7 linked regions of the Homo sapiens genome follow. The protein of the gene in region 1 interacts with the protein of each later gene in a pairwise test. Each region holds a gene or a part of one and is shown in the gene's direction. Other genes may lie near its edges.

Region 1 (3,500 bases):
GTGCCTTCTAATGAGCAATATCACATACTTCATACTTGAAGTTTGAGGGCAAACAGACTTTGCAAAAATAATCCAGCTGGTTACTAAACAAATGAGCAAATGACAATAACAAGCCTAAGGTGGAAAAGGTGGGACCAGTAGTACTCAGAGTTGCTAAAATGTCTAGTTTCCAACAAAGAATTATGAGCTATGCAAAGACACAGGAAAGTATGACCCATACACTGGAAAAAAAGCAGGTAACAGAAACTGATTGTGAAAGTGACCAGATGTCACATTTAATAGACAAAGACTTCAAAGTAGCCATTATATATGTTCAAATAACTAAAAAACTATGATTAAAGAAGCAAAGAAAGGTGTGTGATAATGTCATGTCAAATAGGGAATATCAATAAAGAGATAGCAATTATATATTAAAAAAGAAACAAATAGAAATTCTGGAGTTGAAAAGTACAGTAACTAAAATGAAAAATTAACTAGAGGAGTTCAATAGGCTAGAACTGACAGAAGAAAGAATTCATGAATTTGAAGATAGATCAATACAGATTATGCAATATGAAGGAGAGAAAAAAGACTGATGTGTTGGAGAAGTGTCAGACACCATTGAACACACCAGCATATCAGAAATGATTAATAACAAGGTTAATATAACAAAAGATGCAAATATGCTCTTTTCTTCTCAGATTCTTTAAAAGACATTATATAAAGTAATAAGTATAACAATATAATGTTGAGTTTGTAACATTTGTAGACATAATGTGGATTACAATAAAATCACAAAAAAGGGGAAAAGGAACAGACTTATATAGGAATAGCATTCCTGTATCTCACTGGAATTAAGTTGGTATAAATCAGAAGCTGATTCTGATGAGAAGCATATTGTTAGCCCAGCTGGGTGCTGTGGCTCACGCCTGTAATCCCAGCAATTTGGGAGGCCAAGGTGGGCAGATCACAAGGTCAGGAGATCGAGACCATTCTGGCTAACATGGTGAAACCTTGTCTGTACTAAAAATACAAAAAAAAAAAAAAAAAAAAATTAGCCGGGCGTGGTGGCGGGCGCCTGTAGTCCCAGCTACTTGGGAGGCTGAGGCAGGAGAATGGCATGAACCCGGGAGGCGGAGCTTGCAGTGAGCCGAGATCGTGCCACTGCACTCCAGCCTGGGTGATAGAGTGAGACTCCGTCTCAAAAAAAAAAAAAAAAAAAAAAGGAAGAAGAAGAAGTGTATTGTTAGCCCAAGAGTAACTGCTAAAGAAAAAAAAAGTATAATCATTAAGTTATAATGCTACATTTGAAAATATTCACTTAATGCAAAAGAAAGCAGTAAAGGTGGAATAAAGGACAAAAACACATGAGACATATAAAAAACAAAAAGTAAAAATAAAACATGTAAATCCAGCTATATCAATAATATTAAATGTGCATGGATTAAGCAATCTAGTCAGAAGACAGACTGGATTAAAAAAAAAACAAGATCCAATTATATGGTGTCTAAAGGTGGCACACTTAAGGTTTAAAGATACAAATAGTTTGAAAGTAAATGGATGGAAAAAGAAATATAATGCAATAAAGAAAAGATAAATGTTTGAGGTGTCAGATATGCCAGTTACCCTGTTTTGATCATTACACTTTATATACATGTATCAAAATATCACATGTATCCCAAAAATATGTACTACTTTTATTAATTAAAAATTACATATATGCACATATAAATACATATATATACGTGTATACACATATATATATGCATGTATACATATATATACATGTACACATATATATACATATATACATGTATACATATATACATGTATACATATACATGTATACATATATACATGTATACATATATATGTATATATATATAAAAATATGCAAAAGGCAACTATGAGAAAGCTGGAGTGGCTACTTTAATATCAGCTTTTTATTTACTTTTTATTTATTTATTTGTTTATCTTTGAGATGGAGCCTTGCTCTGTCACCCAGGCTGGAGTGCAGTGGCACGATCTTGGCTCACTGCAACCTCCGCCTCCCAGGTTCAAGCAATTTTCCTGCCTCAACCTCCCAAGTAGCTAGGACTACGGGTGTGTGCCACCATGCCCGGCTAATTTTTTTTTTTTTTTTGAGATGGAGTCTCACCCTGTTGCCCAGGCTGGAGTGCAGTGGTGCAATCTCAGTTCACTACACCTCTGCTTCCTGGGTTCAAGCAATTCTCGTGCCTCAGCCTCCTGAGTAGCTGCCCGCCACCACACCCAGCTCATTTTTGTATTTTATTAGAGACGAGGTTTCACCATGTGGGCCCGGCCGGTCTTGAACTCCTGACCTCAAGTGACCCACCCACCTCGGCCTCCCAAAGTGTTGGGATTACAGACGTAAGCCACCATGCCAGGCCTGAATTATATACTTTAAATAGGTGAATTGGATGGTAGTGAGTAAAACTTGAAAATAAGAATACCAGTTTTATGAGTAACAACTAATGGATGCAGTTTCGGTTTCTTTGCAGTTCAGCTTGTCCTTAGAGAATAAATTCCACTGAGGACGTACAGTCAAAATAACGTGAGCTAAAAGTCATTTGAAGTAATTCTTTTTTCTCTGTGGTTATGTTACCAACTTGATTGTTAGTTATTGCATTAATTGACTTTTCCTATACTGAAACAACAATTCCAGAATTTTAGTAGCTTATAATGATAAACATTTATTTCTTGCTCAGGTTCTGTGAGTCCACTCTAGTGGTTCTTCTCTAGGCCCCAGGTTCAGTTCAGGTCTACCTGTGTGTCTTCTCATCCTGGGACTTCAGTTGAAAACACAGCTCCCATATAAGATAATGTAGGTCTTGTGGAGGGCATGGGAACACAAGAGGGTTGCTAGAATTTGCAGCGACTCCTAAATCCTTTGTGTGGACTGGCACACTGTCACTTTTATCCATATTTGTTTGTTTTGCATAAAAGGTTAAATTACGTTTTGTTGTTGTTGTTGTTGTTTTGAGACGGAGTCTCCCTCTGTTGCCCAGGCTGGAGTGCAGTGGCGTGATCTAGGCTTGCTGCAAGCTCCGCCTCCCAGGTAGCTGGGACTACAGGCGCCCGCCACCACACCTGGCTAATTTTTTGTATTTTTAGTAGAGATGGGGTTTCACCGTGTTAGCTAGGATGGTCTCTATCTCCTGACCTCGTGATCCACCTGCCTTGGCCTCCCAAAGTGCTGGGATTACAGGTGTGAGCCGCTGCACCCAGCCAAATTATGTTTTTTACTTATGTGAGTTTGTAATGACACCACCACATTCACTATCCCCCAGTTCTTCCTCATTTTGCCCCATTCCATATTTTATCTTTCCTTGTCCTCGTGACAATATCGGTTCCCAATAACACTACTGTATGTATTTATTCTATTCTACAATACACACAATATAGTTTAAAAATTAAGATAGTAATATCACTACTAATAACATTATATGAAGAGTTTAAGATATTTTTAAATTTCTTTTGCTTTTAGAAAGGTACCACTA
Region 2 (3,500 bases), on another chromosome or scaffold:
ACCCACTCCTTGGAGTCCTTCCTGCTCCAGTCTGACTGCTTTTGCTCTCCAGGCCTGCTGCCTAGTTGTCATCTGGAGCTTCATCATCATCCTTGGGATTCCCTTTGCCTGTCTTCTCTGGTGGGTCTCCTGTTTCCTACAATCTTAGTCGCCTCCTGAGAAAGGATAAACCTTTGGGTTCTTATCTGAAAATGCCTTAGTTTATCCTAATTGATTAATAGTTTAGCTGGGTGTGGCATTCTAAGTTGGAAATCATTTTCTTGGATAATTTTGAAGGAACTGTCATCTTCTAGCTTTTAGTGCTGCTGTGGCAAAGACGAATGCCAATTTTATTCCTGATGTCAGCCTAGTGTGGGGATTTGTATCTTCATATTTTGAGTACTTGTTGGGCCTTTTTAGTCTTAATAAGCAAATTTCTTCAGTTCTCAAAATTTAAAAAATACCATTTCTTGGCCGGGCGCAGTGGCTCATGCCTGTAATCCCAGCACTTTGGGATGCCAGGGTGGGCGGATCACCTGAGGTCAGGAGTTCAAAACCAGCCTGACCAACAAGGTAAAACCCCTGTCTCTACTAAAAATACAAAAATTAGCCGGGTGTGGTGGCGTGCACCTATAATCCCAGCTCGTCAGGAGGCTGAGGCAGGAGAATCACTTGAACCCGGGAGGCGGAGGTTGCAGTGAGCCGACATTGCGCCACTGTACTCCAGCCTGGGGGAACAGAGCGAAACTCTGTCTCAAAAACAAAACAAAAAACCATTTCTTACATCATTTTCACCCTCTGTATTCTTCCTTTTCTCTTTCTGTAGTCAAGATATTGGACCTGATTAATTCCTTCTCTTATTCATTCACTTATTTTTATTTTATTTTCTGAGACAGGGCCTTGCTCTGTTGCTTAGGCTGGAGTGCAGTGGCCCAGTGACAGTTCACAGAAGCCTTGACTTCCCAGGCTCAAGTGATCCTCCCACCTCAGCCTCCCAAGTAGCTGGGACCACAGGTGCACGCCACCATGCTCGGCTAATTTTTTTTTGAGACAGGTTTCACTCTGTCACCCAGGTTGGAGTGCAGCAGTGCGATCTCTGCTCACTGCAGCCTCTGCCTCCCAGGCTCAAGTGATCCTCCCCCTTCAGCCTCCTGAGTAGCTGAAGGCACATACCAGCATGCCCGGCTAATTTTTTGTATTTTTGGTAGAGACAGGGTTTCACCTTGTTGCCCAGGCTTGTCTCAAACTCCTAAGCTCAGGCAATCCTCCCACCTCAGCCTCCAAAAGTGCTATAGGATTACAGGCATGCGCCACCACATCCTGGTGTTTTTTTGTTTTTGTTTTTTTTAATTGGATAGATTTTCAGCCAGGCCTCCTGCCTTAGCCACACCTTCATTCCATTTCCCCTGGCAAGGGCAACCAGTTCCTTGGCCTTTGGGAATGAGATTTATATATGTTAGGTTGTTTTATCCGCTGCCCAGTTTAGGATTTTCGCTTTTGGGGTGTGCTGAGTCAGTTAGCACTCATTTACCTCTCCCCAGCTTCCAAAATGCTATTGAAGGCCTTCTCATTCTCTTTTTCCTTGTGGGTTTACACCTTTAAAGTTTAAACAAAAACTTTAGTGTTTTTTTTTTTTTTCCTTTGAGATGAAGTCTCACTCTGTCGCCCAGGCTGGGAGTGCAGTGGTGTGATCTCAGCTCACTGCAACCTCCGCCTCCTCAGCCTCCCGAGTACCTGGGATTACAAGCATGCACCACCATGCCTGGCTAATTTTTTGTATTTTTAGTAGAGACAGGGTTTCATCATGTTGGTCAGGCTCGTCTTGAACTCCTGACCTCAGGTGATCTGCCCGTCTCAGCCTCCCAAAGTGCTGGGATTACAGGCATGAGCCTCCATGCCGGGCTTCGTGTCATTTTAGTGGGGTTTCAGGAAAAAGCACGGGGCAAATGCGTGTGTGCAATCTGCTACCATCTATAACTGGAAATCTTCCACACTAATATTGATTTGCCCTTTTCACTTATTTAGGGTTCCTAAGACTTTGGAATTTCTTGGTATTCATTCCTCATCCTTAGGGAATGCAGAATTCTAACAAACTTCTGTGGGATAGATATGCCATCACTCACACACTGGTCTTTACTAATTTAGACCCTTAGTGTTATACATGGCTCATATGAAGAGTAAAGGGGAGCCTGTCGGTAGCTAGGCCCACATGTGTGCATGCCTCCTGGGCTGATGGCTGAATTGCCATTTGCTTCTTATATGACAAGCTCTTAGTGTATGTGCCCATTATCAGAGATATCACGGGCTTCAAAGGTCCAAGCTTGGCCATCCATTCCACTCTTTTCATCATACCCTTTGTGTTCTGACTTTGAAGCTTTTCTAGGTCTTAACATTTTCTTTCTTTGTTTTTCTGTAGGATCATGGATTTTCCTGGTCACTTTGAACAAATCTTCCAGCAGCTGAACTACCAGAGACTTCATGGCCAGCTCTGTGATTGTGTCATTGTAGTGGGGAATAGACACTTTAAAGCCCACCGCTCCGTGCTGGCAGCATGCAGCACGCATTTCCGAGCCCTGTTCTCAGTGGCAGAAGGAGATCAGACCATGAACATGATCCAGCTGGATAGCGAGGTGGTGACAGCAGAGGCCTTTGCTGCACTGATTGACATGATGTATACCTCCACCCTCATGCTGGGGGAGAGCAATGTAATGGATGTCTTATTGGCAGCCTCTCACCTGCATTTGAACTCTGTTGTTAAGGCATGTAAACATTACTTAACGACAAGGACGCTGCCCATGTCTCCCCCCAGTGAGCGCGTTCAGGAGCAGAGCGCCCGCATGCAGCGCTCCTTTATGCTACAGCAGCTGGGACTAAGCATCGTGAGCTCAGCCCTCAATTCCAGCCAGAATGGCGAGGAGCAGCCAGCCCCCATGAGCTCTTCCATGCGCAGTAACCTGGATCAGCGCACGCCCTTCCCCATGAGACGCCTTCATAAGCGCAAGCAGTCTGCAGAGGAGCGGGCCAGGCAGCGCCTCCGACCCTCCATAGATGAGTCTGCCATTTCAGATGTTACACCGGAGAATGGGCCTTCAGGGGTTCATTCTCGGGAGGAGTTCTTTTCACCAGATTCTCTGAAAATTGTGGATAATCCTAAAGCTGATGGAATGACTGATAACCAGGAAGATAGTGCGATCATGTTTGATCAGTCTTTTGGCACTCAAGAAGATGCCCAGGTGCCCAGCCAGTCTGATAACAGTGCTGGCAACATGGCACAGTTGTCCATGGCCTCTCGTGCAACTCAGGTTGAGACTAGTTTTGATCAGGAAGCTGCACCTGAGAAAAGTAGTTTTCAGTGTGAAAACCCTGAGGTTGGCCTTGGTGAGAAGGAGCACATGAGAGTGGTGGTTAAATCTGAGCCCCTGAGCTCACCTGAGCCTCAGGATGAAGTGAGCGATGTGACCTCACAAGCAGAAGGCAGCGAGTCTGTGGAAGTGGAAGGAGTTGTGGTCAGTGCCGAGAAG
Region 3 (3,500 bases), on another chromosome or scaffold:
ATACTAGGAAATTATCAATTTTTCAACTGTCGAAGGCCTATAAAAATGGCAATTTTCTATCATTCAACCTAAATACTATGTGTAATGTATTATTATATATTAATATTGTTAGGATATATATTATGTATAACATATTGTGTTAGTAGTAACATATTTGTGCATCCTTTACATTAGTGTCAAATTATCATCTGCTATATTAATATCACAGATTAATTTATATTATTGGTATATTAATATATTGATCAAATAGAGGGTCAGCAAACTTTTTTCTGTAAGGGGCCAGAGAATAAATATTTTAGGGCTGGGCACGGTGGTTCATGCCTGTAATCCCAGCACTTTGGGAGGCTGAGGCAGGTGGATCACTTGAGGTCAGGAATTCGAGACCTGCCTAGCCAACGTGGTGAAATCTCATCTCCACTAAAAATACAAAAATTGGCCAGGCCTGGTGGCGGGCGCCTGTAATCCCAGCTACTCGGGAGGCTGAGGCAGTAGAATTGCTTGAGCCCAGGAGGTGGTGGGTGCAGTGAGCCGAGATCACACCACTGCACTCCAGCCTTGGTGACAGAGCGAGACTTTGTCTCCAAAAAAAAAAAAAAGAATAAATATTTGCTCTGTGGCTCCTGCAGTCCCTATACTGACCACCTGACTTTACAGTAGTGGCTCTAAAGCAACCACAGGCAGTACATGAAAGAATGAGTGAGGATGTGTTCCGAAGTATGGATGGACACTGAAGTTTGAATTTCCTGTCATTTTAACAGGTCAGGAAGTATTCTTTTTTGGATTTTTTTTTCAACCATTTAAAAAATGTAAAATGCATTCTTACCTCCTGGGACATGCAAAAATGCCAGATTTGGCTGGCAGGCTGCAGTTTGCCAACCCTAGGATTATATCAACATTTTATATACGTTATACATATTATAGTATATACTATTGCACATTATATCTATACTATACATATTATGCTATACTACATCATTTCATATATCATGTCATATTACATTACATGATATTCTATATTACCGTATTATATTACTGTATATTATACCATCCTCCTGGGCAGTAGCAGCCTCCTGATCCCCGTCCTCCTGGGCATAGCATCCTGGGTGACCTCATCTTTTTGGGTGGCAGATTCTGGGTAGAAACCCTCTCCCTAGGCAGCAGCATCCTCAGTAGCCCCCATCCTCCCAGGTGGTAGCAATCCTGTGTGGTTCCAATCTTCCTGGGCGGTAAATTCTGATAGAAACCCATCTCCCTGGACAGTAGCATCCTGGGTGTCCCCCGTCCTCCTAGGCGGTAGCATCCTGGGTGGTCTCCATCCTCCCAGGTGGTGTCATCCTGGGTGGTCTCCGTCCTCTCAGGAGGTGGCATCCTGAGTGGTCCCCGACCTCCTGGGCATAGCATCATGGGTAGTCCCCATCCTCTTGGGAGGTGACATGCTGGGTGATCCTCGTCATCTCAGGAGGTGGCATCCTGGGTGGTCCCTGTCCCCCTGGGTATAGCATCCTGGGTAATCCTCGTCCTCTTGGGAGTAGCATCCCGGGTGGTCCCCGTCCTCCCCAGCAGTAGCATCCTGGGTGGCTTCCCATCCTCCTAGGCGGTATCATCCTGGGTAGCCCCCTGGGGCAGAGGGAAGAGCTGTGGCCTCCGCAACCTCCTACTCACTTCCGCTCCGTTCTCTTGCCCGCCCTGCAGCGGCACCCGACCTGACAGCGTTCAGCGACCCGCGCCAGTTCCCCGCGCTGCCCTCCATCTCCGACCCCCGCATGCACTATCCAGGCGCCTTCACCTACTCCCCGACGCCGGTCACCTCGGGCATCGGCATCGGCATGTCGGCCATGGGCTCGGCCACGCGCTACCACACCTACCTGCCGCCGCCCTACCCCGGCTCGTCGCAAGCGCAGGGAGGCCCGTTCCAAGCCAGCTCGCCCTCCTACCACCTGTACTACGGCGCCTCGGCCGGCTCCTACCAGTTCTCCATGGTGGGCGGCGAGCGCTCGCCGCCGCGCATCCTGCCGCCCTGCACCAACGCCTCCACCGGCTCCGCGCTGCTCAACCCCAGCCTCCCGAACCAGAGCGACGTGGTGGAGGCCGAGGGCAGCCACAGCAACTCCCCCACCAACATGGCGCCCTCCGCGCGCCTGGAGGAGGCCGTGTGGAGGCCCTACTGAGGCGCCAGGCCTGGCCCGGCTGGGCCCCGCGGGCCGCCGCCTTCGCCTCCGGGCGCGCGGGCCTCCTGTTCGCGACAAGCCCGCCGGGATCCCGGGCCCTGGGCCCGGCCACCGTCCTGGGGCCGAGGGCGCCCGACGGCCAGGATCTCGCTGTAGGTCAGGCCCGCGCAGCCTCCTGCGCCCAGAAGCCCACGCCGCCGCCGTCTGCTGGCGCCCCGGCCCTCGCGGAGGTGTCCGAGGCGACGCACCTCGAGGGTGTCCGCCGGCCCCAGCACCCAGGGGACGCGCTGGAAAGCAAACAGGAAGATTCCCGGAGGGAAACTGTGAATGCTTCTGATTTAGCAATGCTGTGAATAAAAAGAAAGATTTTATACCCTTGACTTAACTTTTTAACCAAGTTGTTTATTCCAAAGAGTGTGGAATTTTGGTTGGGGTGGGGGGAGAGGAGGGATGCAACTCGCCCTGTTTGGCATCTAATTCTTATTTTTAATTTTTCCGCACCTTATCAATTGCAAAATGCGTATTTGCATTTGGGTGGTTTTTATTTTTATATACGTTTATATAAATATATATAAATTGAGCTTGCTTCTTTCTTGCTTTGACCATGGAAAGAAATATGATTCCCTTTTCTTTAAGTTTTATTTAACTTTTCTTTTGGACTTTTGGGTAGTTGTTTTTTTTTGTTTTGTTTTGTTTTTTTGAGAAACAGCTACAGCTTTGGGTCATTTTTAACTACTGTATTCCCACAAGGAATCCCCAGATATTTATGTATCTTGATGTTCAGACATTTATGTGTTGATAATTTTTTAATTATTTAAATGTACTTATATTAAGAAAAATATCAAGTACTACATTTTCTTTTGTTCTTGATAGTAGCCAAAGTTAAATGTATCACATTGAAGAAGGCTAGAAAAAAAGAATGAGTAATGTGATCGCTTGGTTATCCAGAAGTATTGTTTACATTAAACTCCCTTTCATGTTAATCAAACAAGTGAGTAGCTCACGCAGCAACGTTTTTAATAGGATTTTTAGACACTGAGGGTCACTCCAAGGATCAGAAGTATGGAATTTTCTGCCAGGCTCAACAAGGGTCTCATATCTAACTTCCTCCTTAAAACAGAGAAGGTCAATCTAGTTCCAGAGGGTTGAGGCAGGTGCCAATAATTACATCTTTGGAGAGGATTTGATTTCTGCCCAGGGATTTGCTCACCCCAAGGTCATCTGATAATTTCACAGATGCTGTGTAACAGAACACAGCCAAAGTAAACTGTGTAGGGGAGCCACATTTACATAGGAACCAAATCAATGAATTTAGGGGTTACGATTATAGCA
Region 4 (3,500 bases), on another chromosome or scaffold:
TGATATAACCTCAGGGCCCTGGGGGGTCCACAGCACAGGCAAGGCAGAAACAAGGACCTTGGGCTCTCTGTGGCCTCTGAACTGTAGAAGAATGGACTTTCCCTCTTTGGCTCTGGTGTTTGCCTCCTGCTTCTGTGAAGGACCGGGAGAAAAAGCCTCCTAAGTCCCAAATTATCCGACTTGCTGACAAGTGCAGAGGGCAGGGTAGACAGGACTATTGCTTTTCTTAGTTTACCTCTAGAGTACCCTCTAGAAAGTGTCTTTGAATGCTCAATCCTTGCAAAGGTTTCCATCCTGGTCATTTAAAGAATAGGAGGACAAGGGTTAGGGATGCCGGTTCTGCTGCCATTTGATTTGACTGGGTCTGAACTGGGCTGGGGCCCAGTGACTCAGTGGGAGGGTGGATAGTTTTGAGGGAGCTGTGAGTCATGGGGTTGAGCTCCATCACAAGAGTTGGGCTCATTTCCCCCATTCTGGGCAGAAGCTCTCCTATCCCACTTCCCTGTATGCTCTGTCTCCTTGAACATGGGCCTGTGAGTAGAAAGAGTGCTGGCAGGCTGATCTCAGAAAGGGAGTTCAGAGGCACAAAGAATAATGCTGGTCCCTGAGATTAAAATGTATCCCTATCTTAGGAACCCGTGGGGCTCCTCTAAAGAAGGCAAAAGAACATCAATTTAAGAGTAACAGAGGGAAAAGTACCACTTCTTAACATGGAAGGAGATAGGGTCCCACCTCAGGCCTTTTTCTTCTCTGGCATGGAGGAAGCTTCCTGGGCTTCACTAGTTCTCCAGCTCTGAAGCTTTGGTTTGGAAGGTGGGGAAAGACAAATGGGAGTGAGGTATTTGGGGTCTGGGGTCTGGTATAGACAGCAGGCAGACTTTGAGGGTTGTCAAACCGTATCTTTAAAGCCCTCGGGCTTCCTATTAACCGTCCTGGAAGGAGGAAGGGCGGGGGAGTAGGGCGGAGGGGTAAGATGTGGAAGGCCTACGCCTTTGAAAGGGTTAAATGGCAGGGCAGGGTGTTGCTTTGGACTCCGGCAGCTGTCGGGTTAAGGAGAAGGGCGGAGCGACCTTGGGTAAGCCTACCCCCTTATGGACCAATAGGCGTGTGCCTCTTGGAGGGGGCGTGCCTCGCACTTGAGGTCGCGGGGAGGCTGGCTTCCTATGGACCAATGAGCATGGTCGCTTTCCAGGGAGGGCGTAGCCTGAGGGGGGCGTGGCGGCCGTGGCCGCCGCGGCGCGGGTGGTGGGGCACTGGGCGGGGCGGGCGGCCCCATCAGCTGGTAGGAAATGGCCTGTGAGTCAGAGGGGCAGTGGAGTCGGCGGCGCGGAGCCGGGGCGGCCCCGGGGAGGGACCGTCGCAGGGAGGGGCGCGGCAGCGGCTGGGGGGCTGCGGGCGCCAGGGCCCGCTAGTGTTGCACACGAAGCTGAACAGCGAAGAGCCTAGCAGAGCAGGGCTCAGCCTGAGCCACCCTTTGTCTGGGTTGGGGGCCCGTGGCAGGGAGGACCGGGGAACCAAGGGGAGGGACCGGGACGGGACGGGACGGAAGGGCCCGGAGCAGCGGCCACCTCCGCGGAGCCAATTTGGGAGCGGGGTGAGTGTGCTAGAGGGAAAGAGCAAATCTCCGAAGCTCCAGTATAGTATGGGGCCTGTCCCAGGCTGTGGGGAGGAGAGGAGTGAGAAGGGACCTGGGAGGCTGGGCAGGGGGTAAGGGATCGTCCAGAAGAAGGAGTCCAGGAGTCAGGTGAGTCTGCCTGGCTTAGTTTAGAGAGTCTGCTAAGGTCTGCTCTCTCCCCTCTGAAGATAGAGGGCTCTAGGCTGGGGGCCGAGGGGTTGGTAAGAGAGAAGAAGTCGACCTTCCTACCCACAGTGGTGGTCCGTGGGAACAGCCCCCCTAGCTTGTGTGGATGTATGTAGGGACAAAATAGAGAGCAGCTGGCAGCAGTTCTCTTTGCATAGGATGAGGGTGGAAAGCACATGGATAGGAATTCATCCTGTCACTCTCCTTGATCATGGTAGAAATGGAAATCTTTAATACTGAAGGGAAGGGGAGAATGAGCCTTGAAGCTGATACCTATACCAATACCCACCTCACCCACCTCCCAGGCCTCAAAAGTGTCTAAAGGTACAGACGTATTCTGGGACTTGTTGTTTTTGCTGGCCTTGCTCCCTCAGCATGTTGGGAGCTGTAGTCCTTGCCAGCCACAGCCTGGCACAGCTGTTTGATGCCAGCTGCTGCCCACCCCCTGAACGAAGAGTGAGGCTTGGCCTACTCTGCCCTGCCCCCCTCCCCTGCAGTCCTGCCCCATGAGTCAGCTTGAAGCCATGGTCTAGAGCCAGACTGGCTGGGTGGCAGGGGAGTGAATATAGAGCGTCTTGTTGACAGGGTGGGAACTGAGAGGGCTCTGGGGTTAATAAGCAGATGCCAGGTATGCTGGGGTCAAGTAGGGCATCATGTCATCCCCTGGCTTCCCCAGGGCAAGGGGTCAAGAGGGCAACTGGGATGACCTGGAAGTGGTGGTGCTAGGGAAAAGGCCCCTCCTGAATCTGTATGGCTTGGGTGGAGGAAAGAAGGGTAGAAATTAGTGCAGGTTGTACCTTCTGACAAGGTTGGTTGCAGGTAGGATAGTGCAGGTTGCGATTGGTGTTCTGCCCTTTCCAGCCATCCCGCCCACCACAGGGAACCAGGATTTTCTTAGGGATCCCAATTCTTAGGAGAATTTGGTGAAATGGGATAGTGGGGTACAATGATGGGAACTTGGTGTAGGAGAGCTTTTCAGTCCCTGGGTACAAATCTCTCCTTTCTGCCTGCTCCCCACCCCCACCTCTGTTCCTGATTTTCCCTTGTACAATTAATCTCTCTGCTTCTCTCATCTGGGAAATTTTTCTCTCCACTCTCAGGACTGCTGCTCAGATGTCTGGGACTTGCATTCTACTTTTTTTGAGCCCTGCTGTGTGCTTACCCCTGTACTTGGGGTTGGATGGAGGGGTGGGACACAGATCTGTCCTCAGGAACTCTATGGTCGGTCTAGAAGATGCCTTACCCACAGGAGTGAGCAGAACTGTTAGTGAGCTTACAGGAAGTAGTAACACTGCCATAGGTGAGGTCTCAGAGAAGGGAGAGATGCTTATGGTCTGGGGTGGACAGAGCAGACTTTCTGGAGGAGATGGCATTTGACCTATCCAAGGAGGAAAAGTCTTGGGTAGGCATTCAAAGGGCACTTCTTGAAGGGGAAAGAGCACCGTGAATGTCAGACAGCAAAAGAGAAGGCTGACCCTGGGGGCAGCTGGCTTTCAACTTGACATTCCCCTCACCCTAGTATGGGCTGGAATAGTTAGTGAAGACCATCTTATGCACCCGTGGTTTGGGGTTTTGGTGTTGGGTGTGTGAGCACTGGGGGAGGGGCGTGGAGAGGTACTCCCTAGTTGCTTCCAGCTGACTGACTGCTGCGGCCTTATCTCTAGTTTGCAGGGCCTTGCGGGAGGGCCCTGGAAAGTGC
Region 5 (3,500 bases), on another chromosome or scaffold:
GCAAGATGCTATCTCTACAAAAAAAAAATAAATAAAAATAAAAATCAGCCAGGCATGGTGGTGCATACCTATAGTCCTAGCTGCTTGGGAGACTGAAGTGTGAGGAGGATCGCTTGAGCCCAGGAGTTCAAGGCTGCAGTGAGCCATGATCATGCCACTGCACTCCAGGCTGGGTGACAGAGCAAGACCTTGTCCCTTAAAAAATTTTTTTTCAAAGAATCTAAAAGGAAAAAGGGAAGACTACTGAGTTCATGTACAGCTCAAAGAAGTGGAATAGGGAAGTTTAAAAGAAAAGGGAAAAGAAAACACACACACAAGAATAGACACTGTTGGCAACCCTACAGAGTCAGAGTTTGAAAGTGAGAGTTGGAAACTTGACCTCTGAGTTTGCTGGAGGAAGCCAGCAACATGATTTAGAAAGGATAATATAATCATAATGGCAGGAAGTGAGCACAGTCTTCTTGGCTGGAGAATCTCAGTTGCAGTGTTTGGGGCAGACTGACTGGAAATGATGCTATGTCGGGGACCATGTTTGAAAGCCTAAAATCTGAGTTGACAAGGAGATGTTCCATGGAGGCTCTGGGAAAGAGGGACTCGAAGGCAGACCCCCACACAGCGGACTAGTAAGGTCTCGCTCTGTCACCCAGGCTGGAGTGCAGTGGCACCATTTCAGCTCACTACAGCCTCAACCTCCTGGGCTCAAGCAATCTTTCCACCTCAGCCTCCTGAACAGCTGGGACCACAGGTACATGCCACCATGCCCAGGTAATTTTTGTACTTTTTGTACAGACAGGGTTTTAACATGTTGCCCACGCTGGTCTCGAACTCCTGAGCTCAAGCGGTCTGCCTGCCTCAGCTTCCCGAAGTGCTGGAGGTGTTTTATGGATTGAGTACTGTTCAGTTGTACCCTATGAAAGTGACCCACCACAATGGCCTGTTTTCCTGAGCAATTCTAGAGAGACAGCAGAAGGGGCTGGTGGCTCCCGTGAGGCTAGAAGGGCAGAACAGCAGAGGAGGAGAGGGTTGGAACAAAATTGGGCAGTGGCCTCTGTGCTTGCTGGCTCCCCAGCCCCAAGCCGCCTCTCTGTGGGAACCAGGGAACATTCATACTGCTCGAACGTGGCTCTTCCCACAGTCAGACACCACTGGCCAGCCAGGATCTCCCCTCCTGTTGAAAAATGCTCTCCCTTGCAGCTCCCACTAGGAAACCTGGAAGGCCAAACTGTTTATGACATTGTTTCCCTAAAATGTGCTCAGACACCATGTTTTATAAAGTTTCTGTCTCTTCTTTCTGTTAAGAAAGGAGAAAAAGGATCCCAGCTACTCAGGAGGCTGAGGCATGAGAATTGCTTGAACCAGGGAGGTGGAGGTTGCAGTGAGCCGAGATTGTGCCACTGCACTCCAGCCTGGGCAACAGAGCGAGACTCTGTCTCAAAAAAAAAAAAAAAAAAAAAAAAGGAGAAAAAGGAAAAACATTTCCAGCACTCTTGTCCACCTCCTCAGTTGGAAGTGTAATAAAAAGATTCTTCTGGCTGGGCATGGTGGCTCACACCTGTAATCCCAGCACTTTGGGAGGCCGAGGTGGGCAGATCACTTGAAGCCAAGAATTCAAGACCAGCCTGGCCAACATAGTGAAACCCTGTCTCTACTAAAAATATAAAAAATTAGCCAGGTGTAGTGGCATGCACCTGTAGTCCCAGCTACTCAGGAGGCTGAGACAGGAGAATTGCTTGAACCTGGGAGGTGGAGGCTGCAGTGAGCCGAGATCACACCACTGCACTCCACCCCAGATGACAGAGCCACGCTTCATCTCAAAAAAAAATAAATAAATAAAAAATAAAAGGATTCCTCTCTCTAGTGTACCCATGTCTCTCAAGACACTCTCCCAACTGCCCTGGTGCCCAAACTCGTGTTTATTCCCTTCCTATTCACTATCCTTCACCTCTCAGGTATTAGGTAAAGCCAATGTCTTGGGGAAAAGTGGCTAAAAAGAGGAAATGACAGTTTTCTTTCTAACAAAAATATGAAACCATCTAAGAAGAAAAAAATGAAGTAGACCTATCTTTTTGTTAGTGTGCAGAGTAAAAGCCATTTAAAAAAAATTATTTAAAAAAACCATGATTTTCAAAATTCATATAGCTGAGAATACTGTATTTTAAATACAGGTTAAGTATCCCTAATCCAAAAATATGAAATTCAAAATGCACCAAAATCTGGAGCTTCTTGAGCACTGACATAACACGCAAAGGGAATGCTCAACTTACTGGTTGAGCAGCCCTATAATGCAAATATTTCAAAATCCTAAAAAATCTGAAATTTAAAACACTCCTGATCATAAGCATTTCAGAGAAGGGATACTCACCCTGAATTAACACAATCCATTCAATTTAGCTATTGTTTATAAAATAAAAACTAGCCCAAGCCTTGCTGAGTGGGCATATCTTGATTGCCACCGTTATTGTTGCAGAGGTACATTGTGAAGTTGCCAGGTCTGCAGGTCAGCCCGTTGCAGGTCCTGGTTTATGGATGGTTGGAAAAGAGCTAGTCCCATTCCAATTGTCATTGTCAGCCAAGTGCATTGTCAAAATATCCCACTTTCCTGGCAAAGCCCTCATTGGTATGTTTCCACTTGGCCCAGTGCGTGGAATTGTTTTCATATACTCCCCTTGCTTTGAGAGGTCTGGGCAGAAGAAAGCAGGAGAAGAAGAGGAGTGGGGAAGAGCGGAGGGGTGCAGACAGGAAAGGGGAGAGCGAGAAGGAGCCTGACCATGTGGGTCTGCCAGGACCCTGCATGGGCCAGCTTATGCCCTGTCCCCTGGCTCCAAATGCCCAGGAAAGACTGCCTCGGGAGACGCTACATGTTGAGGTTCACATCACCAAGTGTGCTGTGTCTGAGGCTTGGACCGAGCACTGGAAAAATGACCCAGTGGCCAATTAAACTTTCCATTGGCAGACATTGGATGAAAACTTTTTTTTTAAGTGAAATCTTTCCATTTGAGTAGTTTGTTTTTTAATGAAATGAAACATGTACTGACATGCGCTCTGTGGAGCAATAGGAGAGTGATTAATTAAACTCTGTGCTGCCATTTTGGAGGGAGGCACTCAGAGCCAGAGTCAAGCATTAGGAGGCGTTTCAGGGGCTGTAACCGCACCCAGAAGGATCTGTCAGGCCCTTCTGCCTGTTTCCCCTCAGTTCCTGTGGACTCCTGGAAGGGACAGAGACAAGGGAGATTTCTGCTGGTCCAAGCTCTGTCATTGCTGAAATATGAAACCAAGGACAGTACTAAAAGATGCGGCAAGGCAAATGCTTTGGAGAGTGCCAGTTCTGCTACGTGATTACACACTCTTCCTAATCTTTCTGGGCAATATGTATGAAGAAATAAAAACAGTAAATAGCCTCGTAATCAGTTCAGGTTTTGTGGCCAGATGAGGTCAGTTCAGATCAGTTCTGTAGTCAAGTGAGTTACAAAAACTTGATGGTGTTCAGAGCTCGTTGGATG
Region 6 (3,500 bases), on another chromosome or scaffold:
TGATAATTTGATTATTTAAATAAAATATATCATTAAAATGTACATTACCTGTTTATTCTGTCTCTTCTTTAATATGGCTACTAGAAAGTTTAGAATACCATATATGGCTTATATTTTATTACTGTTGGACAGTGCTCCTCAAGATCGTCTCACTCTGTTACTGAATAACATTCAGACCCCAGGGCAGAGATTCTAAAGCCTTCCTTGGTGATTCTGAGTCTTTCATTATTCTGGCAATTCTGTTCTTCTCCACGTCCTATCTTAATCTCTCCTGCTTCGGTTTGGAGACTTCTACAAGTAGTTGACTCTTTGGCATCTCCTTATGAAATCCCACTTGAAGTGAGTCAAGCATCTCTTCATATTGTTGTAAGCACAGTAAACCCATTTTCTTTTCACCTTTTGACTTTCTACCTCCTTGATCATTTTTAGTGACTTCTCTTGGGTCATCTCTGGTTTCTCTATATTTTGTTTTTTAAAACTTGGCATCCCAAACCACCCACATTGCTCTAACATGATTCCAGCTATGCAGAGACAAGCTGAAGGAATTACCTCCATCATCAAGTACTTGACCAGCCCTTTTGCTACTTTACGTTATTTAATCCCACAGCACATGGAGGGGCAGATGCTATTTGGGGCTCAGAGAAGGTATTTGGGGCTCAGAGAAGTTAAGTAACTTACCAAGGTTCTACCACAAATTAAATGGCATGTCTGGGATTTGTGTCCAGCTTTGCCTGACTCCAAAGCTCATGCTCTTTCATTATATACCATGCCTCTTTTTTTGCTGGTATTTTTCTTGAAATATTCTTTCCCATAGTCTTGAGAAGCATTGCAGCACAGGCTGATGCATTTGTAGCTTATGGTCAACAGTGATAACTGGGCTTGTTTTGTTATGTTTGCACCTAGCTGGAATTGCTAAGCCCTTCTGCTAAATTCCAGAAACCCCTTCCAACCTTCTAGATATGGCATAAAAACCAGCAGGACTGTCCAGCCCTAGCCCTTGTAGGGTCATCAGTGGGCCAGTGTTGAGATCTCCAGGTGTCAGGAATGACTTCCCTGAAAATGAGCTTTCTTTCCTCTGGCCCAGAGCCTGTGAATAACTGTCAATCCCAAGACAGGCTATTTCTCAAAGGCTAATCAGTGAGAGGGGATGGAAAGGATCCTTCTGAGTGTGTTAAAAACAGATCTTCCCAGAGCTTGAAACTTGAGGACATTATGCTCAGTGAAGTAAGGCAGTCACAAAAGGACAAACACTGTATGATTCTACTTCTCTGTGGTACCTAGAGTAGTTAGAGTTTCAGTTTGAGAAGATGAAAGGGTTCTAGAGATGGATGGTAGTGATAGTTGCACACCACTGTGAAACGGTGAATTTTTTTTTTTTTTTTTTTTTTGAGACCAGGTCTCCTCTGTCACCCAAGCCCCAGGGTACAGTGGTGCAATCACAGCTCACTGCAGCCTCGACCTCTGAAGCTCAAGCAATCCTCCCACCTCAGCGTCTGGAGTAGCTGGATCTACAGGCATATACCATCACACATGGCTATTTCTTTTTTAATTATCTGTAGAGATGAGGTCTCATTATGTTGCCTAAGTTGGTCTCTAACTCCTGGGCTCAAGCCATCCTCCTGGCTCAGCCTCCCAAAGTGCTGGGATTATAGGCATAAGCCACCACCCCCAGCCTGTGAATGTTCCTAATGCCACTGAACATCCACTTAAATATGATTAAAATGATCAATGTTATGTGTATTTTACCACAATAAAAACAAGCTGATCTCTACATAAAGCAAAACAGCAATTAGAGGTGTCTCAGGAGCCAAGTCTTCGGTCCATTGCATATTCTAGCTTTGAGCCCATAGTCACTCTGAGTTAGCTTCTCATGAGAAAGGTGCAGTCTTACTGCACAGAGATGAGGGGAGCTCTTTTTTTCCCTGACAAATTTCTCCATCTAGGAAGTTTTTCCAATTTCACACAAATGCCTTTACCAGGATTTAAATCACTTTCAACAGATGTCTGGGGGAGGTGAAGCAGCCTCACCCCCAGGACTCTGGAATGGGACCTTTGTTCATACTCACTTTTCTATGGAGAGCTTCTTAGTCTTAGCCCCCTGTCTATCAGGGGGTAGGCTAGACCTTTCTCAGAAAGAAAACAGAGCTGCACATTGTATTTGATTGTACCAAAGTAGTTGTAGCTTTTTTGGAAACACGAATGAGAATTTGATTGAGTACTCAATATCTAAGAATGTTTGATCTGTGTTTCATTGGAGCCTCTGGCCCTTGAAAACCTGGGGTCAGTTAACCAATCTGATTCACAGGCTCTTTTGAGAAAATATAGCCAGACTATGTAGATTGGGACCCTAATCCATAAAAATTCTCTTTAGAGTATCTGTTTAGAGTCACTGTGGGTGTATTTGCTTATTTGCCGTGTATATTTCCCTTTTCAGGAATCATTAACCAATGGCAACAGGAATCCAAGGATAAAGTGATTTCCCTCCTGTTAACTCATCTGCCTTTGCTGAAGCCAGGAAACCTCGACGCGAAAGTAGAATATATGAAACTGCTGCCCAAAATCCTGGCTCACTCTATTGAACACAACCAGCACATTGAGGAGAGCAGGCAGCTGCTGTCCTATGCTTTGATACATCCAGCCACTTCGTTAGAAGACCGTAGTGCTTTAGCCATGTGGCTGAATCACTTGGAGGACCGCACGTCGACCAGCTTTGGTGGCCAGAACCGAGGCCGCTCAGACTCTGTGGATTATGGACAGACACACTACTATCACCAAAGACAGAACTCTGATGACAAGCTCAATGGGTGGCAGAACTCTCGGGATTCTGGGATTTGCATCAATGCCTCCAACTGGCAGGACAAAAGCATGGGGTGTGAGAATGGCCATGTGCCCCTCTACTCCTCCTCATCTGTCCCCACCACAATCAATACGATTGGAACCAGCACAAGTACAAGTAAGTTCCCCGGAATCCCTTTAACGTAGTCTGGTTTGGCGATTTGCTGTGTATGTGGCATGTCCTGCTGACAGTGTCTGCTCCATGCACCCTGTGACCCTGGGAGAGAAGGACTGATTGGAATTGGCTGTGGGAAAGGTCCTTTGGACCCCATATTTGTTGCTCTTTGACTCTGCAAAGATGAAAATACTTGGGAAGGTAAAAGTGACTGATGGTCCAAATTTGGGTTATAAACAGACCAAAAATAAATAGACAATAAATGAAAGAAGGAAACTTGCCGTTTCCACAATCAGAAATGCATTTCACCCATGTCTTTCACCCTGGGGTTTTGGATTTGCTGAGACACTGAGTTACTGTGTGATTCTCTAAACCTAATTCTAACCCATGGTTAACCAGGCAGCCTCATGGGCTTTGTGCTTTCTCTTTATTTTTTTTTTCCTCTTTCTTTCTCTTTATTTATTTATTTTTTCTTAAATTTCACCCTGGAATGTTTCCTCCCTTTGCATTTTCTGGTTTTAATCCCCAATTGTTGGGGCACTTTTTTCCT
Region 7 (3,500 bases), on another chromosome or scaffold:
TTACATGTAAACAATTTAAAGACTTTATGTCTCAGGGGTTCCATGTTTGTGAAATGAGAAATAATTATAGCTGCTGCACAGGCTTGTCAAAGAGGATTATATAAAGAGCCTTGGTGTGACCCCTAGCCATGTCCTTTTCAGAGTACGTGGCTGGAACTCTTAGCTCCTTCAGTCTGACATTGGAGATGACTAGAGACCTTGAACCAAGTGCCCAGGAGGCAGAAACTCTCCAACCACTACATCTCTGTGCTGGCCTCCAAGAAGGATTGCCCACATTGTGGGAAAGATCATTTTTATTCTCAGAAAGGAGCCCCTGGTCAAATAACTTGCTTGGAAGCATCTGGGTTTCCCCAGTGGGCTATCAGCTGCCTCCAATGCTGAGAAAACAAAGTGTCACATCGCTCTGCAGAACTATAAAAAGATGTTTGTTTGCGGGCTGTTTGGGGAAGGAAAGTGCCGGCCCCAGCTAGCAGCTCCCACAGCACCCTTAGCTGGGCCTTGCCCCAGGGTTTTGTTTTTCAGAGCTCACCAAGGTTTGCTGAAGATCTAGAAGGGATTTTGGGGAGGGGTTCTGGGTTTGACTTGAGGTGGATGTGCCCATGCTCAGGTGGCCACAGCTAGAGAGTGACAGCGCCAGGCAAGGGCATGGCAGAAAGCAGGAGATGGCGACATTCTTACTTTGGCTGATGAGCTCCTGTGACCTATGATTCATCAGCAGCAGATGAAGTTGTTGAATGACTCAGATAAAATAGGCGGTTCAGGGCATTTCGTAGGGTGCATTTCTTACTATACAGCTTATGTATCCCTAGCGTCCACCGTGAAGGCTGCTTGGGCCTCAGTCTGGGGTCGTTCCCCATTGTCATCAGCTTGCTGCACTCTGGTCTAAATGTTTCTGCTGAAGCTGGACCATGGTAGATGTGGGTGTAGAATCAGCCATGGCTGGATCTGAGCCTCTGGCAGCGGTGGCTACTTGAGCAAGCATGTTCCTGAACCTGTCTGGGCCCCACTTGAGCCTCATTTATGACATAGAGATAAGATAGCACACACCCCCAATGTCATTGAGAGGATTACATGGGATAACCCATGAATAGTGGCTGGCATGGAGTAATACTTAGCGAGTGTTAGCTGGTGTTGTATTAGGTCATAGACTAAGCTGTTATTGAGGTAGCAGCATTATCTTGGGGTTTACTCACTGTCTTCCGCACGTACGGGTGATGTATCTGATTACTCTGAGCACTAAATAATCTAAAAAGCTGGTGGCTTGCACCTATGGTCCCAGTTATTCGGGAGGCTGAGGCAAGAGGACTGCTTGAGCCCAGGAGTTAGAGGCTGCAGTGAGCTATGATTGCACCACTGCCCTCCAGCCTGGGTGACAGAACAAGATCCTATCTCTTAAAAAAGAAGAAAAAAAATCTGAAAAGTGAATTAGAAGGACTGAATTTTTATTTTAAGAAAATGCAATATGTGATTTTATTCAGCCCTGAAACCAGTTTGTTCAGACATTAGAGTTAGGCATTTTACCTGCTCTGCATAGCTACAGAATAATACTAGTGGCAAGGATGGGGAACACCTAGAACTCTTCTGCATTGCTGTTGGGAATGTAAAATGCTGCAACCACTTTGTTAACCACGTGCTTACCCTATGACTGAATGACTCTACTGCTAATACTTAAAAGAAATTTGTGCTTGTGTCCACTAAAGGTTTCTTTTGTTTGTTTGTTTTTGTGATGGAGTCTCACACTGTCACCCAGACTGGAGTGCAGTGGCGTGATCTTAGCTCACTGCAACCTCCACTTCCCAGGTTGAAGCAGTTCCCCTGCCTCAGCCTCCAGAGTAGCTGGGATTACAGACACCCACCACCATACCTGGCTAATTTTTGTATTTTTAGTAGAGATGGAGTTTCACCGTTTTGGCCAGGCTGGTCTTAAACTCCTGAGCTCAGATGATCCACCCACCTCGGCCTCCCAAAGTGCTGGGATCACACGTGTGAGCCACCGTGCCTGGCCTAAAGGTCTTATATAGGAATGTTCATCCCAGCTTTACTCATAATAGCCAAAAACTGGAAACAACCCAAATGTCCATCAACAAGACAACAGGGTAAATAAATTACACCATATTCATGCAAGGGTATACTTACATAATGAATAATAACTAATAAAAACAAAAAAACAAACTACTGGTTTGTTTTTATTATTTATTTGGTGGATACATTTCAAAAACATTATGTTAAAGGAAAGAAGCCAGGTATGAAAGAGAACATACTATATAATTCTGTTTATATATATATTTCAAGAAAAGGCAAAACTCATCTTTACTGATGGAAGGAGAAGTTAGAGTGGTTGCTTCCGTAGGGATTAACTGGGAAGTGGCATGAGGAACCTTAAGGAATGGAAATGTTTCATCTTGATCTAGGTGATGGTTGGATGGGTATATTCATACTTAAAAAAACAACTGAACTGTACAGTTAATATTTGTACATTTATTGAATATTTCACCTCAATTCTAAAACTATATATATATAAAGGGCTAGGTGTCATATCTTTCCATTATACTTACATATACCTAATAATACCTAATATTATACCTAATAATAGTAATTATAGTTGCTTACTGATAACAACAACTAATAACACTTATTGAGGCCCTACTCTGTGCCAGGGATTTTCTAATCACTTAATTCCCTAACACATTATGAGGTTTTATTGTTTTCTCCAATTTTACAGACAGGGAAACTGAGACATGGAGTAGTTAAGTTCATTTACCCAGTGTAACACAGCTGGCAGTCTGGTTTTAGATTTTGTCCAATGCACACTGTGTGGCACTGCCCAGGAGCATAAGCTCCTTGTCACCGACCCTCTTTCCTTCCTGCTTAGAGATGTGCTGAATTTCCTGCGCTCAGGGGACCTCCCACCCAGGGAGCGTGTTCGAGCTGTGTACAAAGAGGCCCAGTACTATGCCATCGGGCCCCTCCTGGAGCAGCTGGAGAACATGCAGCCACTGAAGGGCGAGAAGGTGCGCCAAGCGTTTCTGGGACTCATGCCCTATTACAAAGGTGAGGGTCAGCTGCCCAGGATGGTGGGTATGTGGGAGGAGGTCTGCAAGGCATCTGTGAGTGTTTAGGTCTCCATCAGAACACCGGGGGCAGCATTCATCCAGATTACTCAAGATGCGATGGAGTGTCATCCCTTCCCAGTCACGCTGGGGAGATTCAGGTTAAGGTGGGCCTACCTGGCCTATGACAGTTAGCAAATTGTATTTCAGAAGGACAGCCCTCGTCCCATTGGCTTCCCTTTGCTGTGGAGAACCGTGACCCTTGTTTAAGTTTGTGCCCTTCATTGGCCCCCTGAGTCCCTTCCCCGGGAAATCTGTCTTTCCCCTCCTGCATCCTGCCATCTTCAGGACTGTTTCTCTGTGCATCTCTGCTGCCCTGTCCTGCCTCTTCACCCTAGTGATAGGTGTTGTGTTCATCCTTATAGACCACTTGGAGCGGATTGTGGAGAT

The links.
Region 2: the proteins of BAG4 (region 1) and ZBTB5 interact in binary tests that used the Homo sapiens proteins (3 or more experiments, as listed by UniProt).
Region 3: the proteins of BAG4 (region 1) and RUNX1 interact in binary tests that used the Homo sapiens proteins (3 or more experiments, as listed by UniProt).
Region 4: the proteins of BAG4 (region 1) and ATOSB interact in binary tests that used the Homo sapiens proteins (3 or more experiments, as listed by UniProt).
Region 5: the proteins of BAG4 (region 1) and FYN interact in binary tests that used the Homo sapiens proteins (3 or more experiments, as listed by UniProt).
Region 6: the proteins of BAG4 (region 1) and SAMD4A interact in binary tests that used the Homo sapiens proteins (3 or more experiments, as listed by UniProt).
Region 7: the proteins of BAG4 (region 1) and KCTD7 interact in binary tests that used the Homo sapiens proteins (3 or more experiments, as listed by UniProt).

The regions. Positions count from the first base shown.
Region 1 is NC_000008.11:38,186,855-38,190,354, forward strand, and holds part of BAG4 (BAG family molecular chaperone regulator 4), read left to right. Parts: intron 1-3,500. UniProt on the Homo sapiens protein: Inhibits the chaperone activity of HSP70/HSC70 by promoting substrate release. Prevents constitutive TNFRSF1A signaling. Negative regulator of PRKN translocation to damaged mitochondria.
Region 2 is NC_000009.12:37,441,451-37,444,950, reverse strand, and holds part of ZBTB5 (zinc finger and BTB domain-containing protein 5), read left to right. Parts: intron 1-2,395; 5' UTR 2,396-2,399; coding exon 2,400-3,500. UniProt on the Homo sapiens protein: May be involved in transcriptional regulation.
Region 3 is NC_000021.9:34,790,803-34,794,302, reverse strand, and holds part of RUNX1 (runt-related transcription factor 1), read left to right. Parts: intron 1-1,692; coding exon 1,693-2,168; 3' UTR 2,169-3,500.
Region 4 is NC_000009.12:35,109,363-35,112,862, reverse strand, and holds part of ATOSB (atos homolog protein B), read left to right. Parts: intron 1-470; exon of another isoform or gene 471-533; intron 534-1,206; exon of another isoform or gene 1,207-1,296; intron 1,297-1,410; exon of another isoform or gene 1,411-1,594; intron 1,595-1,647; exon of another isoform or gene 1,648-3,203; intron 3,204-3,232; exon of another isoform or gene 3,233-3,500. UniProt on the Homo sapiens protein: Transcription regulator that may syncronize transcriptional and translational programs.
Region 5 is NC_000006.12:111,663,953-111,667,452, reverse strand, and holds part of FYN (tyrosine-protein kinase Fyn), read left to right. Parts: intron 1-3,500. UniProt on the Homo sapiens protein: Non-receptor tyrosine-protein kinase that plays a role in many biological processes including regulation of cell growth and survival, cell adhesion, integrin-mediated signaling, cytoskeletal remodeling, cell motility, immune response and axon guidance.
Region 6 is NC_000014.9:54,699,628-54,703,127, forward strand, and holds part of SAMD4A (protein Smaug homolog 1), read left to right. Parts: intron 1-2,434; coding exon 2,435-2,953; intron 2,954-3,500. UniProt on the Homo sapiens protein: Acts as a translational repressor of SRE-containing messengers.
Region 7 is NC_000007.14:66,635,381-66,638,880, forward strand, and holds part of KCTD7 (BTB/POZ domain-containing protein KCTD7), read left to right. Parts: intron 1-2,872; coding exon 2,873-3,051; intron 3,052-3,475; coding exon 3,476-3,500. UniProt on the Homo sapiens protein: May be involved in the control of excitability of cortical neurons.